2 separate regions of the Homo sapiens genome follow, and region 2 is linked to region 1. The links come from fine-mapping of genetic effects on gene expression. Tissue or cell type: whole blood. Region 1 holds a variant in brackets; the other region holds the start of a gene. All regions are shown on one strand. Distances are between the middles of the regions.

Region 1 (8,102 bases):
ATTTTCAAAAATTTTTTTGAGATGGAGTCTCACTCTGTCACCCAGGCTGGAGTGCAGTGGCGTGATCTCAGCTCACTGCAGCCTCCGCCTCTCGGGTTCAAGGGATCCTCCTGCCTCAGCCCCCTGAGTAGCTGGGATTATAGATGCCCATCACCGTGCCTGGCTAATTTATGTATTTTTAGTAGAGTTGGTTTCACCATGTCGGGCAGGCTGGTCTCAAACTCCCGACTTTAAGTGATCCGCCCGCCTCGACCTCCCAAAGTGTTGGGATTATAGGCGTGAGCAACATCCAGCTGTAAATGGTTTTCTTTAAATTAGTTCACTTGCTTTACTTTGCTTATCAAGGAACTTTATGTCTACATTTTCACATAAGTATTAATATCATCTCACCTGACCACCCAGTAATATGTGTATTTGGCTGCAGAAACATGTACTAAATTACCTCCTAAAAACATTTCCCCCACCAACCCTCCAGTCCCCCAAGACACCCACGTATCACTCAAAAAGCCCAAGACAGTGAGCTCTGCACAGAGCCAGTTTGCAATAAATGATCCAAGAATGTCCTTTATAACATCACAACCAGCAGTCAACTTGTTTCTGCTAAAGACCTGTGCTGCTCATGAATTCACCGCCTCCTAAGCTATCTCAGTCCGCTATTGTCCTCAGGGGTGGAGCCTACAATTTCCTCATCTTTGTACTCCAGCTCATCTTTGTACTCCTGGCCCATGGTAAACACTTAGCCTCTTACCACAAGTTTGTTGAGGGAAAAATGGACAAGTGACATTAGAAAACTATTAGAGCCCAGTGGCTAAGTACAACAATTAAGAGCTCTGTCAGTAAATAGGCTGGGTCTAATTTTCAGTTATTTATGCTGTTGTTTTGAGACAGAGTCTCGCTCTGCTGCTCAGGCTGGAGTGCAGTGGTGCCATCTCAGCTCACTGCAGCCTCCTCTTCCTGGGTTAAAGTGATTCTCCTGCCTCAGCCTCCTGAGTAGCTGGGATTACAGGCACGTACCACCATGCCTGGCTAATTTTTTTATTTTTAGTAGAGAAAGGGTTTCACCATGTTGGCCTGGCTGGTCTCGAACTCCTGACCTCAGGTGATCTGTCTGCCCTGGTCTCCCAAAGTGCTGGGATTACAGGCATGAGCCACTGCGCCTGGCCCTAAACTATTTGTCTCTTAATGTTTGACTTCTCCTGGCTCTGTCTCCCCATCTGTAAAACAATACAATATTTGTGGACTATTTTCCATCTACAAGGCACTGCTGTAAGCACTTTACATGTATTAACTAATTTAGTGGGAACAGCAAAATTTGCCTCTGACAAGGTTATTCAGAGAACCAGGTCAGGTAATAAAGGTGAATGTGCTTTGTAAAGTATCTGCAAAATCTCAGGGCTGACAGTTTTTTCTGAGCAAGAGCCTGCATTGGTTTAGGGTGTCAACCAGCACCCCCACCCTGTTCCTGACAATCAGAATAAGTGTCACCATCACCCCTCCACAGGGCACCCTGGGTTTTTCCTTTGGAGCTCTACTACCACTTTAAGGAAATTATTATTTCTGTGATTATAGATTAGTATTTGTCTCCACAAGAGCAGAGATTCAATTTATATTTTTCAACAACGTATCTCCAGACACCAGCATGGAGTAACTTTTTAGTTAACAACTGCAAAAAACAAACAAAAAAACAAACAAACAAACAAAAAAAAAAACAAGGAAATCAATGAAAGTCAAATCAAATTGCCCATACGGTGGCATAATTTCCAAGATATATTGGTAAGTGAGAAGAGCCAGGTACAGCAGGTACAGAAGGCTATGTCTAAATAGCATGCTGCCACTTGTGTTAAAACAACAAAAAGATGCAAATGCATATACAAGACATGTTTGTTCAGCCTCAGTATCTCTCAGGAAGGTAACGCTGATTGCCTCTATATAATAATGCAGTGGGCCAGGCACAGTGGCTCATGCCTGTAATCCTAGCACTTTCCAAGGCCGAGGAGGGAGGATCACTTGAGCCTAGGAGTTCAATATCAGTTTGGGCAACATAGTGAGACCTCACCTCTACAAAAATAAAAATAAATAAATACATAGGCTGGGCGTGGCACCTCACAGCTGTAATCGCAGCCCTTTGGAAGGCTGAGATGGGTGTATAACTTGAGGTCAGGAGTTCAACACCAGCCTAGCCAACATGGCAAAACCCTGTCTCTACTAAAAATACAACAATTAGCCAGGCGTGGTGGTGCATGCCTGTAGTCTCAGCTCCTTGGGAGGCTGAGACAGGAGAATCACTTGAACCCGGGAGGCAGAGGTTGCAGTGAGCCAAGATTGCACCACTGCACTCCAGCCTGGGTGACAGAGCAAGACTCCATCTCAAAATAAGTAAGTAAGTAAGTAAATAAATAAAAATGAAATAAATAAATAGATAAAAAAGATAATGCAGACTGGGCACGGTGGCTCACATCTGTAATCCCAGCAGGGGAGGCTGAGGCGGGTGGATCACCGGGTCAGGAGATTGAGACCTTCCTCGCAAACATGGTGAAACCCTGTCTCTACTAAAAATACAAAAATTAGCTGGGTGGGGTGGTGCGTGCCTGTAATCTCAGCTACTTGGGAGGCTGAGGCAGGAGAATCGCTTGAACCAGGGAGTCAAAGGTTGCGGGGAGCCAAGATCGCGCCACTGCACTCCAGCCTGGCGACAGAGCGAAACTCCATCTCTCAAAAAAAAAAAAAACCAAAAAAAACCAAAAGCTAATGCAGTGGAGGTGACCCTTTTAGTCCCTTCTGTACTTTTTGAAAATATTTTTAATTATGTTAACCACTCAAACACAAAAACACTTTTTATTTATTTATTTTGAGACAGAGTCTCGCTGTGTCGCCCAGGCTGGAGTGTAGTGGCATGATCTTGACTCACTGCAACCTCCGCCTCCTGGGTTCAAGTGATTGAATTGTGCCTGGCCCAAAAACACTTTTAAAATTGTTCACCTTCAAAAACAAAAACAGGTCCAGCATGGTGGTTCATATCTGTAATCCCAACACTTTGGGAGGCTGAGGCAGGAGGACAGCTTGAGCCTAGGAGTTCAAGACCAGCCTGGGCAACATGGCAAGACCCTGTCTCTACACAAAAAATTGAAAAAAAAAAATTAGCCTGGCATGGGGGTGCATACCTGTAGTCCTAGCTACTTAGGAGGCTGAGGTAGTAAGATTACTTGAGGCCAGGATTTCAAGGTTACAGTAAACTATGACCCTCCCACTGTACTCTAGCCTGGGCAATAGAGCGAGACCTTGTCTCCTAAAACAAACAAAACAAATCCCAACCCACCAACCTGCTTATCAACCCTCCAATTTCCTTTCCTGCTGCTCCAGCATAAATCCTTCCTTCTAGCTAAGCAGGTCTCCTCATGGCTTTTGTATGTGCGTGCAAACATACATCACTGCTTGCTTTTTTTTTTTTTTTTAGAGACAGGATCTTACTCTGTTGTTGCCCAGGCTAAAATGTAGTGTGCAGTGGTGCGATCATAGCTCACTGCAACCTCTGACTCCTGGGATCAAGCAATCCTCCTGCCGCAGCCTCCAGAGTAGCTGGTACTACAGGCACACACCACTATGCCTGGCTACTTTTTGTATTTTTTGTACAGATGAGGTTTTGGCATGTTGCCCAGGCTGGTCTAGAATGCCTGGCCTCAAGCCATCTGCCTGCCTCAGCCTACCAAAGTGCTGGAATTATACGTGTGAGCTGCCACAACCTGGCCCCTAATTTTAAATTTTGTTTTGTGGAGACGGGGATCTCATTTTGTTGCCCAGGATTATAGTCTGGGCTGGTCTCAAACTCTTCATTTCAAGCAATCTCCCTGTCTTAGCCTCCCAAAGTATTAGGATTACAAGTGTGAGCCACCGTGCCCAGCCCATCACTGTTTTCTAATAGAAGCACGTCATGTTTACGTCTGTACTGACTCACACCATTTTTACCTCCAGGTTATTAATCTTCTTGTGGCAGGCAGAATGGTCCCTTGAAGATGTCCTTGTCCTAATCCTAGACTCTGTGAATA[C/T]GTTAGGTTACATGGCAAAGGAGAATTAAGGTTGCAGATAGAATTAAGGTGGCTATCAGCTGACTTCAAAATAGGGAAATTATCTGGGATTATCTGGGTGGGCCCAATATAATCACAAGGATCCTTAAAAGTGGAAGAGGGAGGCAGAAGAGGGAGTCAGAGACGTGATGACAGAAGCAAGGTCAGAGTGATGTGATGACTCAACCTGCTACTGCTGGCTTTGAAGATGGAGGAAGGGGGCCATGACCCAAGGTGTGTTGGGCAGCCTCTAGGAGGTGGAAAAGGAAAGGAAAAGGATTCTTTTTTTTTTTTTTTTTTTTTTTTTGAGATGGAGTCTCGCTCTGTTGCCGAGGCTGGAGTGCAATGGCACGATCTTGGCTCACTGCAACCTCCACCTCCCGGCTGCAATTCTGCTGCCTCAGCCTCCTGAGTAGCTGGGATTACGGGCATGTGCCACCTCGCCTAGCTAATTTTTGTATTTTTAGTAGAGACGGGGTTTCACCATGTTGGCCAGGATGGTCTTGAACTGCTGACCTCAAGTGATCTGCCCACCTTGGCCTCCCAAAGTGCTGGGATTACAGGCATCAGCCACTGCACCCGGCGGGAAATGGATTCTTACCCAGGGACTCCAGAAAGAAATACAGCCCTGCAGACATCTTGATTTAGCCTGCTAAGACCTGTGCCTGACTTCTAACCTAAATAACTCTAAGATAATAAATTTGTGTTGCTTTGCACCATTAAACTTGTGGTAATTCACTAGAGTGGCAAACAGAAAACCAATACACCTTCTGACAGCTCTCCATCTTTGGGGGCCCAGCTCAAGCCTCCCTTTCACTCTTACGTCTCTAGCTCGCAGTGATTTTTCTCTTCTGAGTTCCCGCAGCACCTATTTCCCTGAATCACATGGTTAGTACTTGATAACTCACTCATTCAATAATTATTTAATGCCTGCTATGGGCCACACCTTGTGCTAGCCACCTGAGATGGTCTTCCTGAAGGGTGTTTACGGGCAACTGTGGTTTTTTTTTTTTTTTTTTTTTTTTGTATTCCTCTCATTGCTTAGCAAGGTCCTACCCATAAAGGACAAGGTCCAAACACCTCACAATGGTCCCTAAAGACCCTTAGACTGCAAATGACTTCATCTCCTGCCAAACATGGTATCCCTCACTGTTACTCTAACATGCCAACCTTCTTTCATGTATCTTTGTCTTTGCTCCTGTAGGTCCTTCTGCACAGCAACTTCTGGTCAAATGCCTCCATGGTACTCAGTAATTAACCACAGATCTACTCTAGCACTCTACATTCATTCACAGCCCAGGGAAACCATCAATTCCAGTGTGAAGACTTCCCCCACCTCCCAGGCATTTGTCATTCATTTCTTTCTCCGTACATTTCTTTTTTTTTTTTTTTTTCCACATTCCTTTTAAAGCATTTATCACACACCAGTTTGCTTGAGTTCAAGTTTATCCTAGTTCTCTGGGGATAGTTTGAACACTTATTCATCTTTATGTCACCTATACCCAGCATAGCACTGGACTTCAGAACAGTGGAAAGAATATAGCCTGGCTGTCTAATTGAGGAGCTTTGGTTGAGCATCTCAATCCAAGTCTCAAACTCGGATATGCTTTAACTCTGAGTTGGCCCGCATGCTCTGAGTTAAAATTTGAACTGATTCAATTTTTTTAAATGGGAAAATCCACATAAAGTGTGGATTTCTGACAACTCTTGCCCAAAATTCTGGCAACACTAGATCTTTATTTTCATATGGCAGCCATCAGCTGGAGCTGATTAGATGGCATCTACTCTCCATTTGGCCCATTTCACACTTCTGTTGTCCCTAGCACAAAGACCTGGTGTTGGTTGCTATTTCATCATTCTTTTTCTTAAAGTAAAATTCAAAGTTAAAACTTTCTTACATTGGGTTGTTTCACCTAATCCCTGAAGGCATTTGAGTTTTCAACTCCTGTCTTAACCTCTAAGCCTGACTTCTCATCTGTCAAATCTTCTCATCTGTCAAATGCAAAAAAATAACATTTATCTATAATTCTGAAAAAAAAGCCCTGCAGGGTAAAGCATGCATAGAGAACACTGCCTGGCACATGGAAAGTGTTTGAAAACGGTTAATATAAGGAGCTCAAAAACCATTTACAAAATGAATGAATAGACCAGGCATAGTGGCTCATGCCTGTAATCCTAACACTTTGAGACGCCGAAAGATCGCTTAGTCCAGGAGTCTGGGAACAGCCTAGCCAACATAACAAGACCCAGTCTGTACAAAATCAAATAATTAGCCAGGCATGGTGGCGTGCACCTCCAGTTCCAACTACTTGAGAGGCTGAGGTGGGAGGATCGCTTGAGCCCAGCAGTTGAAGGCTCAGTGAGCTGATTGTGCCACTGCACTCCAGCCTGGGGGACAGAGTGAGACCCTGTTTCAACAAATATATAAGAACTAAAAACTGAATGAATGAATGAACGAACATTCCAACGACCATGTGACTGTTTTGTAAAGAGGAGACTGATGAAGGAAATTATCGCCAAGGTGTTTTTATCCGTTTATGAAAGCCATACTTTGTATTTGGGTTGCTGCAGCTGCTCAAAACAATGGGAGAAACTGCAGTTATAAATTCCAGAAAAGCCTGTGAATGGAGTGAAAGTGGAGTGGGTGGTCAAAAACCAATGGCCGTGGAGGCTTAGCTCTCTTCACAAGGCACACAGCAGGTGCTCAATGAGTGCCTGTTGAATGAATGGCCACGCAGCCCAATGCGTGCCTATGCACCCCTCCTCCTCCAGGCAGCCCTCCGGAGGTCCAGCCTCCTCCCCACCCTCTTGGCCCGCCCCGCCCCGCCCGCCCTTACAGGATGTCTTCGCGGATGGAGGTGCCATGGTTGAGGTTGTGGAAGCGGACGGAGACGCAGTCCCTGAGAATGAAGGAGCACCTGTTCTCCCTTTTGTAGGCGCTGAAGCACTCCTTGAAGTCCTCATAGGTCTTGAAGCAGCTGCCCAGCTCCATGGCCGCCCCCACAACCCACACTAGGGGCTGGTCCCAGCCCGGGCCCAAGATCACACCAGGGGTCAAAGGTCACACTATGAGGGTTTATAGGCAGGCGTGGGCCCAGAATGCCTTAAGGGTCCGCCCCAACTGGGTGGCCTATTCTGGAACTCAGGGAGGAACCCTAGGCCTGACCGGGTTACAAGAGGAAGGGGGTGTATTTGCTATCTGACAGGGGAAATGACACTCAGTCCATATTATCCAGTCCCGAGGTTCCGCCTCCTCAGCGACATATCCAGTCACACACAGGATTCGCAGATTGGCATTCATTTTCTCCAATTGCTAGAGAAAGAGGGCCACAGCCACCAGCGGACTGACAGGAGTCCTGACCAATCATAACCTAGATTCCTCCTTCCCGGGGTCTGCAGGAGACTTCCGGTTACTAGGGCAATCTGCCGGAAGAGTCAGGTTCTGTGTATGTCTCCGCGTCTTCCGCGGAGCGGGTGTGCAGGGCCTGCAGCATTGAACTAGATGTCGTCCCCGCAGGCCCCAGAAGATGGGCAGGGCTGTGGCGACCGCGGCGATCCCCCTGGGGACCTCCGTAGCGTCTTGGTCACGACCGTGCTCAACCTCGAGCCGCTGGACGAGGATCTCTTCAGGTAGCCGGCAGCTCCTGCCCAGCATCCCCTCCTTTAGGGCAGAAACTTGATCTTGACTGCCGCCGCCCGGGGCCCCTGGCTCCGGGACTAGTATGGCTCTGCGTGGGATGCACCCTCTGCCACGATTAGGAGAGAACTCGCCCCCAACAGAGCTGTCCTCTCTGCTCTGGCTTCCTCCCTTCCTCTCCGCGCTGCGAGGTCTGCACAGCTGAGCAAATATAGTGGTGACCTGAGAGACCCTGCTCGGCAGCCTGCCCTAAGCCTTCACGGGGGAGCTAGCCCAGAGAGGGCAGTGATTTGCCCAAGGGCACACAGCTGATGGATCAGCCTTAAAACCGACGCCGCAGCTCCTTGTGTCTTCAGTATCCTTTTCTTCTCACAATATCCCGCCCCCAGTACCATTTGGTGGGT
Region 2 (8,102 bases), 27 kb after region 1:
TTCAAGACCAGCCTGGCCAACAGTGAAACCCCATCTCTACTGAAAATGCAAAAGTTAGCCAGGCATGGTGGTGGGCACCTGTAATCCTAGCTACTCAGGAGGCTGAGGCGGGAGGATTGCTTGAACCTAGGAGGTGGAGGTTGCAGTGAGCTGAGATTGCACCACTGCACTCCAGCCTGGGCAACAGAGCAAGACTCTGTCTCAAAAAAGAAAAAAAAAAAGATAAAGAAAAAAAAATAGGTTCATTTAAAGAAAAATGTTAAGAAGAAAAGGACACAAGTGGCATTTTTAGATAGGACAAGAATCAGGGAGGTATTGGAATGACTGAGGTTTGGAAAACACTGAACAAGATGATCACGAAGTTCCCCGCCTCCCAGGTCTGAGAACCTGAATATGGATTAACCTATAATGCCAAGCCAACAGGTTTAAAAGGAGAGTTAACCAGTGTTAGATGTTAAAGGCACCCTAACACCAAATCCAGATCTTTCTCTCACATTTGTTCTGTGGAACTGACAATACTCTAGCCACTCCTGGTCAGTTAGGTTTGCTTACTCTGTCCTCTTGAAGATTCACAGTGTATATCACTATTAGGGATTAAATACTTTAACAATAAAGAAACTTATTGTATTCTCATTTAACTCTGCATTCTCAAAACATATTGCCTGCAAAACCTTTATTTAGAAACAGCTATTAACATTCCAGGGAACTAGTTTTCTGCAGGACACACTTTAGGACACCAGTTTTCTTCAGGACACACTGGTCTATATAATAAGCCTTTATGTTCATCTAGTTTACATTTTGTATCCATTATCTCATTGACCTTGTAACATGCAGCCAGATGGGTGATAATGACAGTAGTTCCATTACCCAAGCATTTACCCTGTGCCTCCTGTTGTACCAAGCACTCTTTACATCTGTGATTTCATTTAATCATCACAACAGCACTGCAAGGAAGGTCCTTATCTCTGACAGCTGAGGAAGCAGGCTCAAAGAGGGGGAAAAGGGCTCAAAGACTTGCCGTAAGTCACACAGCTGGAAAACAGCCCAGCTGGGATTTAAACTCAGGTTGATCTGATTCCAAAGCCTGTGCTCTTCACCCCCACAAGTTGAGTGGGGAATTAGGGTCCCCATTGTACACAGGAGGTGCCTTGCTTCTCCAGACACAGGCCGGGGCATACTTGGCCATCCTGCTCTATCTTGTCATCCCTTCCCATCCAGGTACCCACAGTCACCCCCATTCCTCTCAGCCTCTGAACTATTCCTTGGTGTCCCCTTCCAGTGTATGAACCCAGAGTTCTGAGACCTTTGCCACTTCAGACTTCATCATTGGCCACACGTGGTGGTGCACAGCTGTAGTCCTAGCTACTTGGGAGGCTGAGGTGGGAGGATAGCTTGAGCCCAGTTGGAGGTTGTAGTGAGTTATGACTGCACCACTGCACTCCAGCCTGAGTGACAGAACGAGACCCTGTCTCAAAATTTTTTTTTTTTTTTTTTTTTTTTTTTGAGACGGAGTCTCGCTCTGTTGCCCAGGCCGGACTGCAGTGGCTCGATCTCGGCTCACTGCAAACTCTGCCTCCTGGGTTCACGCCATTCTCCTGCCTCAGCCTCCCAAGTAACTGGGACTACAGGCGCCTGCCACCATGCCCGGCTATTTTTTTGTATTTTTAGTAGAGACGGGGTTTCACCGTGTTATCCAGGATGGTCTCGTGACCTCGTGATCCGCCCGCCTCGGCTTCCCAAAGTGCTGGGATTACAGGCGTGAGCCACCACGCCCGGCCTCAAAAATTTTTTTAAAAGACTCAATAATCGGAGTCGGTCCCTGCTGAAATTGGAGTAGTCACCCCATGGGTGTGGCCCTTGCTTACTAACAGCAACAGAAAAGGGTGGAGAGGCCCAGATGTGGGACTGGGCTCCAGGCCCCCTCCTGCTGAGTCAGAGGTGGAGAAGGGTGGTGAAGAGGAGGGGAGTGAGAGATGGAGAGCTGCCACTGACAGGAGTGGCCAGCTCAGCTGGCTTTCAGGCCTGGCCTGAAAAGGGACTGGAGCAGGAGTCGCTGTGGGCATTAAAGGAGCAGACCTCATTCTCCAAGTCAGTCTCTCAACAGCAAGGAAAACAGCAAGGGACTCCAAGGTCCTCCCCAACATTGCTCTTCATCCTAACCTCCACCAACCCTCTAAGTCTAGCCCTTAGGGACAAGGTCGGGTGCTTGAGAACTGATTGACCTGTGCGTTATAAGGACACAGCAGGCCCTAGATGACAAACATTTTCAACCCAAAGTTAAATAATGATGACATAGCTACCATTTCATTGACCACGTCATAATGCCAGGCACACTGCTAAGGGCTTTTTGTCCATTGTCTCATTTAACTCCTGCTGTAATCTTCTGCATTTTCCCCATTGCTATAATGAGGAAACGGAAGATGACCAAGGTTAAACAACTCACCCAGAGTCAAACAACTGGAAATAAGTGGGAGTCAAGATTGGTCTGGATCGAAAGCCTATTTCCTTAACTACCAGCCCATGCAACTTGGATCTCAAGTTTGACCCAGATAACATCTGTCTCTCTGTATCTCACATCTTGCTACAATTTGCAAAAACCTTGTGGGCTGGGTGGGGAAGTGCACACACCAGTTCTCTTAGTCTCAAAACCAGGTTAAGAGGAAGGTCCTTAATCCCCACTTCAGTCAGTCTCAAGGAAACTAAGTCTTGTGTGAGGATTTGCTCAAGTTACATCCCCTTTCTGACCTCAGTTTCCCCATTTGTAAACAAGGTAACCATTTATAACTACATAGACCCCTCAGGAAGTTGGGGTCTTCCCTACTTGCTCCTAGCCATACTTCTGGACTCACAGCCCAGGGGTTCTAGACCCTCACTCACCACGTACTTGGAGGGCGGGTCCTTGACAACGTTAGCGCTGGTCACTTCGAAGAGCAGCCGCTGGGGTGCCAAGGTGTTCCGGGACTTCTTCCAGAAATCCTGCAGCTGCCGCGCCAGGAGCTGACTGCCCCACTGCCCATCAGGTGGGGGGCTCCGTTCTGCAGACACATGACCAGTCATATCAATGGGCCTAGGGCCAGGGTCGACATCAACCACTGACGTGGCCTCACTCATCCTCCCAGTGTGAGGCAGGACTTACCCCCTTTTTACAGAAATGGAAACTGAGGGACAGAGAGGCACCGAGGAGCCAAACACCGTGCCTGGCAGACAGTAGGGGCTAAATTAATAGCTCCACCCTCAAAATATCGTTAATACATCATTTCCATTCGGATCCCAAGCCCTGTACATTTAATGCCTGCAGCAATTCTGAGATGAGAGTGAGTTCTCCCACTTGACACAAGGGAAAACTTGGCTCAGAGGGGGGTTAAGACTCTCTCAAGGTCACACAGCCAAGAGGTGGCCCAGGCGCTTTAAGAAGTGTGGGAGTTTCAGCTGGATCAACTTAGCGCCCTGGATGCTCTGGGAACGCGGCTGGGATGGAGGCCTAATCGAGCCCCAGGGTTCCCGCCTCCGTCCTCCTGCACTCGCCTGCGTCTTCTCCTGACGTCCCATCCCCGAGGGGCAGCTGGTCAGGGCCAGCCTCCTCGTCGTCCTCGTCCTCGTCGTCCTCGTCGTCCTCGGCGCTGGTGAAGCTGAGGGTGCCGCTGAGTCGGGAGGACAGGCCCTCGGCGTCGTCGTCCTCCAGCTCTGAGCTCTCCGGAAACTGCTCGGCCTCTGGACTGGCCGCCGCCTCCCCGGGGCCGTCGCCGGCCAAGGCGTGCCGCAGCCGGTGCAGGAGCCGGGAGGCCATGGCACCCTGGGGGGAGCGCGCGACGCTGTGTACCGGATCCCGGAGGAGGGGTACCCCAGCCCGGCGCAGGAGGAGGAGGGGCGGGGCCCGAACCGGAGAGGGAGGGGCGCGGTGAGGCCCCACCCCCTGGCAGTCCGAGGTCTTGCGAACCAGGGGACCCAGCCAGCATCGCTTTCCCCCCAACCCACTCAGCCTAGGACCGCGTTCCTCCCCGGAGGGGCTCAGGACCCTCCCGATGTCTCTTGCGCCGCCTCGTGCGCCTCTACCTCCTGCGTCCCACGGTGCATTCAGGGGCGCGCCGCGCCCCAGGGGTCCGGGTGCAGCCCCCCGCAGCCCATGGAGGTCGGCCGGGTTCTGCAGGGCTCCGCCGGGCTCAGGCCGCTCAGAGCGCCGCTCGGGCAGCTTCCTGCCGCCGCCCCGCCTCCTGCCCCGCCCGCTCGCCCGAGCCGCCCGAGAATCCCGGGCCCTTGGCTCCAGGAGGGACTTGGGAAGCCTGGGTCGGCCTGAGGGAGTCCCAGGCCTGCCGCAGAGTCATCCCAGTCCGGCCAGGCGCGTACCCTCCTTGAATCCTCCCACCCCACCCACGTCATCTCCAATCTGTCCCACTCATTTCCACCCAACGCTCTTTAACTTCACAAAGTAATTATGCAATAGTAGGGAGGCCATGTCTCCCGAGAGAAAACGAAGGGCCAGGAGAAGATGCGTGATTTGGGTTGGTTGGAATCTGACCTCGCTGAGCCTAGGTTTTCTCATATGTAAAACAGGAACAATACTGCTAAAACTAATTTTGCAGCTCTTGTAAGAACGCTCGTCCCGTGCCTGGCATAGAGCAAAGGCTGACGAAATGATCACTTACATAATGATTATTGTTTCTACAGTGTTCACAGGCTTGCACAATCTGATTTGAACCTCACACATGGGAAGTAGGCAAACAGGGAAACTGAGGACCAGAGAGGGTGAGTTACTTGGCTTAACCACACAGCTTGCCAGAGGTTTCTTTCTTTCTTTCTCTCTCTCTCTTTCTTTCTTTCTCTCTCTCTCTTTCTTTCTTTCTTTCTCTTTTGAGATGGAGTCTCACTCTGTCACCTAGGCTGGAGTGCAGTGGCACCATCTCTGCTTACTGCAACCTCCGCCTCCCTGGGCTCAGGTCATCCCTCCCACCTCAGCCTCCCCAGTAGCTAGGAATAGAGGCGTTCGCCACCACACCCAGCTAATTTTTGTATTTTTTGTAGAGATGGGATTTGGCCATGTTGCCCAGGCTGGTCTCGAATTCCTGGGCTCAAGTGATCCACCTGCCTCTGCCTCCCTCAGAGGTTTCTGAGTATGGGGCCTGGAGCCCAGGTCCCCTGCTGCATACTGCCCTTTTCCTGTGCAGCAGGCCTGATAATCTCAGTGGCTCCCCAGCTTTGTTTTATCTTTTATCCGCAGGGCAGCTGCAGGTCAAGAAAAAGTTATTGTGGCTTCCTGTCACAAAGCCTAGGTATCAGTTGTTAGGGCAGATTTTGATAGTTATACAATACAATAAATAAAATCAAAATCTCTCCAAAGTAGCTCCTACCCTTTCTGAGTGGCACAGGAGAGAAGGGTGGGGGAAAATGCCTTGGGATAAGCAGAAGGTATTTCAGCTCCCTGCCCTCCCATGTGAGCAGAAAGGCTGGGGTTCTTATTTTCTGAGGGTCCACTTTCTACATCCTGCTCTAGGCACTTTACTGTCACATCTCTCCCTCACAGCGTCCTGGGGAAGAGGCTGTAACTGGACATTAATGGTCCATTTTCAAGATGAAGAAACTGAGGCAAAGTGACTTCCCCAAGATCCACATCTGGGAAATAGAGGGGCTGGGATTTTAAGCCTAAGTTTGTGCAATTTTATTTATTTATTTATTTATTTTTAGAGAGGGAGACAGAGTCTTGCTCTGTCGCCCAGGCTGGAGTACAGTGATGCAATCTTGGCTCACTGTAACCTCTGCCTCCCAGGTTCAAGCAATTCTCCTGCCTCAGCCTCCTGAGTGGCTGGGACTACAGGCATGTGCCACCATGCGGCTAATTTTTGTATTTTTAGTAGAGGTGGGGTTTCACCATATTGGCCAGGCTGATCTGGAACACCTGGCCTCAAGTGATCCACCTGCCTCTACCTCCCAAAGTGCTGGGATTACAGGCGTGAGCCACTGTGCCTGGCCAGTTTGCACAATTTCAAACCTCGAATTACTCTTCATTTGGCTTATGGGCAAGATATTGGGACAAAAAAGGCATACTTCATTCATTAATTCAACACTCACTCATTCACCAACCATTGGTTAAAAAATAACTTGTCCTTCGGTATATGCCTTACATGTCTGGGCACAAAGCTGGTCTTCATGAAACCATGGGTTGTTAGAGCAGGAGGGCCCCTCAGAAATCTGGCCTATCACCTCCATTTTACAGATAGGTAGTCTGAGGCTTAGTGAGGGGAAGGGCTTATGCTGGGTCATATAAACAGTCAGAACTAGGAGATCTGAAGGTTGCGCATTCTCCACTATTATTATTTCTTCTTCTTTTTGCTTCCTTCTTCCTCCTCCTGCTTCTTCTTCCTTTTTTATTTATTTTTATTTATTTTATTTTTTTTGAGACAGAGTCTTACTCCATCACCCAGGCTGGAGTCCAATGGCACACTCTTGGCTCACTACAACCTCCATCTCCTGGGTTCAAGCGATTTTCCTGCCTCAAGTAATCCCAAGTAGCTGGAATTACAAGTAATCCCAAGTAGCTGGAATTACAGGCATGTGCCACCACACCCGGCTAATTTTTGTATTTTTAGTAGAGATGGGGTTTCACCATGTTGGCCAGGCTGGTCTCGAACTGCTGACCTCAAATGATCCACCTGCCTCAGCCTCCCAAAGTGCTGGGATTAGAGACATGAGCCACCGTGCCCGGCCTCTTCTTTCAGAGACAGAGTCTCACTCTGTTGTGAGGCTGGAGTGCAGGGGTGCGATCATAGCTCACTGCAGCCTCAAACTCCTGGGCTCAAGTGATTCTCCCACCTCAGCCTCCCAAGTATCTGGGACTACAGATATGTGCCCACCATGCCTGGCTAGTATTTTATTTTTTGTAAAGGTGGGGTTGCATGTTGCCCAGGCTGATCTTGAACTCTTGGCCTGAAGAGATCCTCCTACCTCTGCCTCCCAATGTGCTGGGATTACAAGTATGAGCTACCACCCACCATTCTTTGTTTTATTTTAATTTTTTAATTGGAGACAGCGTCTCGCCATGTTGCCCAGGCTGGTATTGAACTCCTGGGCTCAAGAGATCCACCTGCCTCAGCTTCCCAATGTGCTAGGATTAAAAGTGTGAGCCACTGCCCCCATTCTTAAATTCTGTATGGATATCTCCCTACAGCCTCCCTGAGAAATGGTCATCTAGCTCCTGTTTGGGTATACTCAGTGATACGGAGCTCATTACCTCCTGAGGCCACCTGTTCCCATTATTGTTCAACTATGACTATTAGGAAGTTCCCCCTTATATTGAACTAAATACCATCCAGTTCAGTTATTCTTATGTAGAATATAATATCTGTTGAACACCTGCTACATAGCAAGTGCTGAGCACTGGGAAATGTGATGATCTGTAGAACATAGAATGGGTTGTGAGCATAAGGTATGCTCAGTGCTATGATTGAGGAAACTACTAGAGACCACCTTGGACTCCCTGGTCTGGACACAGTGGGGGAAGGATCCCCGAGGAAGTGATGTTAGAGCTTAGAAAGATGATAGGGAAGTAGACAGATGAAGAGAGGAAAGATGGGAGTTTCTGGCAGAAAAAAACAGCATGTGCAAAGGCTTGAAGGTTCATAGAAGGTGGTGTTTAGAGTAGTCTTTTTTTTTTTTTTTTTTTTTTTGAGATGCAGTCTCCTTTTGTCGCCCAGGCTGGAGAGCAGTGGCATGATCTTGGCTCAGTGCAACCTTCGCCTGCCAGGTTCAAGTGATTCTTCTGCCTCAGCTTCCCAAGTAGCTGGGACTACAGGCGCCCACCACCACACCCAGCAGCAATTTTTTGTATTTTTAGTAGAGACAGGGTTTCACCATGCTGGCCAGGATGGTCTCGAACTCCTGACCTCGTGATCTGCCAGCCTGCACCTCCCAAAATGCTGGGATTACAGGCATGAGCCACCGTGCCCAGCCTAGAGCAGTATTTTAAAGTCTGATCAGAGCAGACAGCAACATGATGTGGAGGGAAGGAGTGAGATTAGAAGGGCCAATGGGACCTTGCTTGGCTACATTAAGCAATTTGGGCCTTACCTAATCCCTTGAATAAACAAAAGAACAAAGGCTGGGCTCAGGGG

The links. PIP is the estimated chance that this variant, and not a neighbour inherited with it, causes the effect.
Region 2: SNX21 starts here. The variant in region 1 is fine-mapped to the expression of SNX21 in whole blood (TOPMed, PIP above 0.99).

Annotation. Positions count from the first base shown.
Region 1 is chr20:45,856,777-45,864,878 of GRCh38, reverse strand. It overlaps ACOT8 (acyl-CoA thioesterase 8), which reads left to right and starts at 7,487. Exons shown (of 6, transcript NM_005469.4): 1 at 7,487-7,691. The coding sequence starts at 7,564. ZSWIM3 (zinc finger SWIM-type containing 3) reads right to left here and starts at 7,265. Exons shown (of 2, transcript NM_080752.4): 1 at 6,899-7,265. The coding sequence starts at 7,053. The variant C/T (reference allele first, on the strand shown) is at 4,044.
Region 2 is chr20:45,829,892-45,837,993 of GRCh38, reverse strand. It overlaps SNX21 (sorting nexin family member 21), which reads right to left and starts at 4,195. Exons shown (of 4, transcript NM_033421.4): 1 at 4,054-4,195; 2 at 3,526-3,793; 3 at 2,878-3,035. The coding sequence starts at 4,074. It also overlaps a transcript of TNNC2 not described here. RefSeq lists silencers at 3,612-3,661, 3,702-3,821, 3,842-4,151.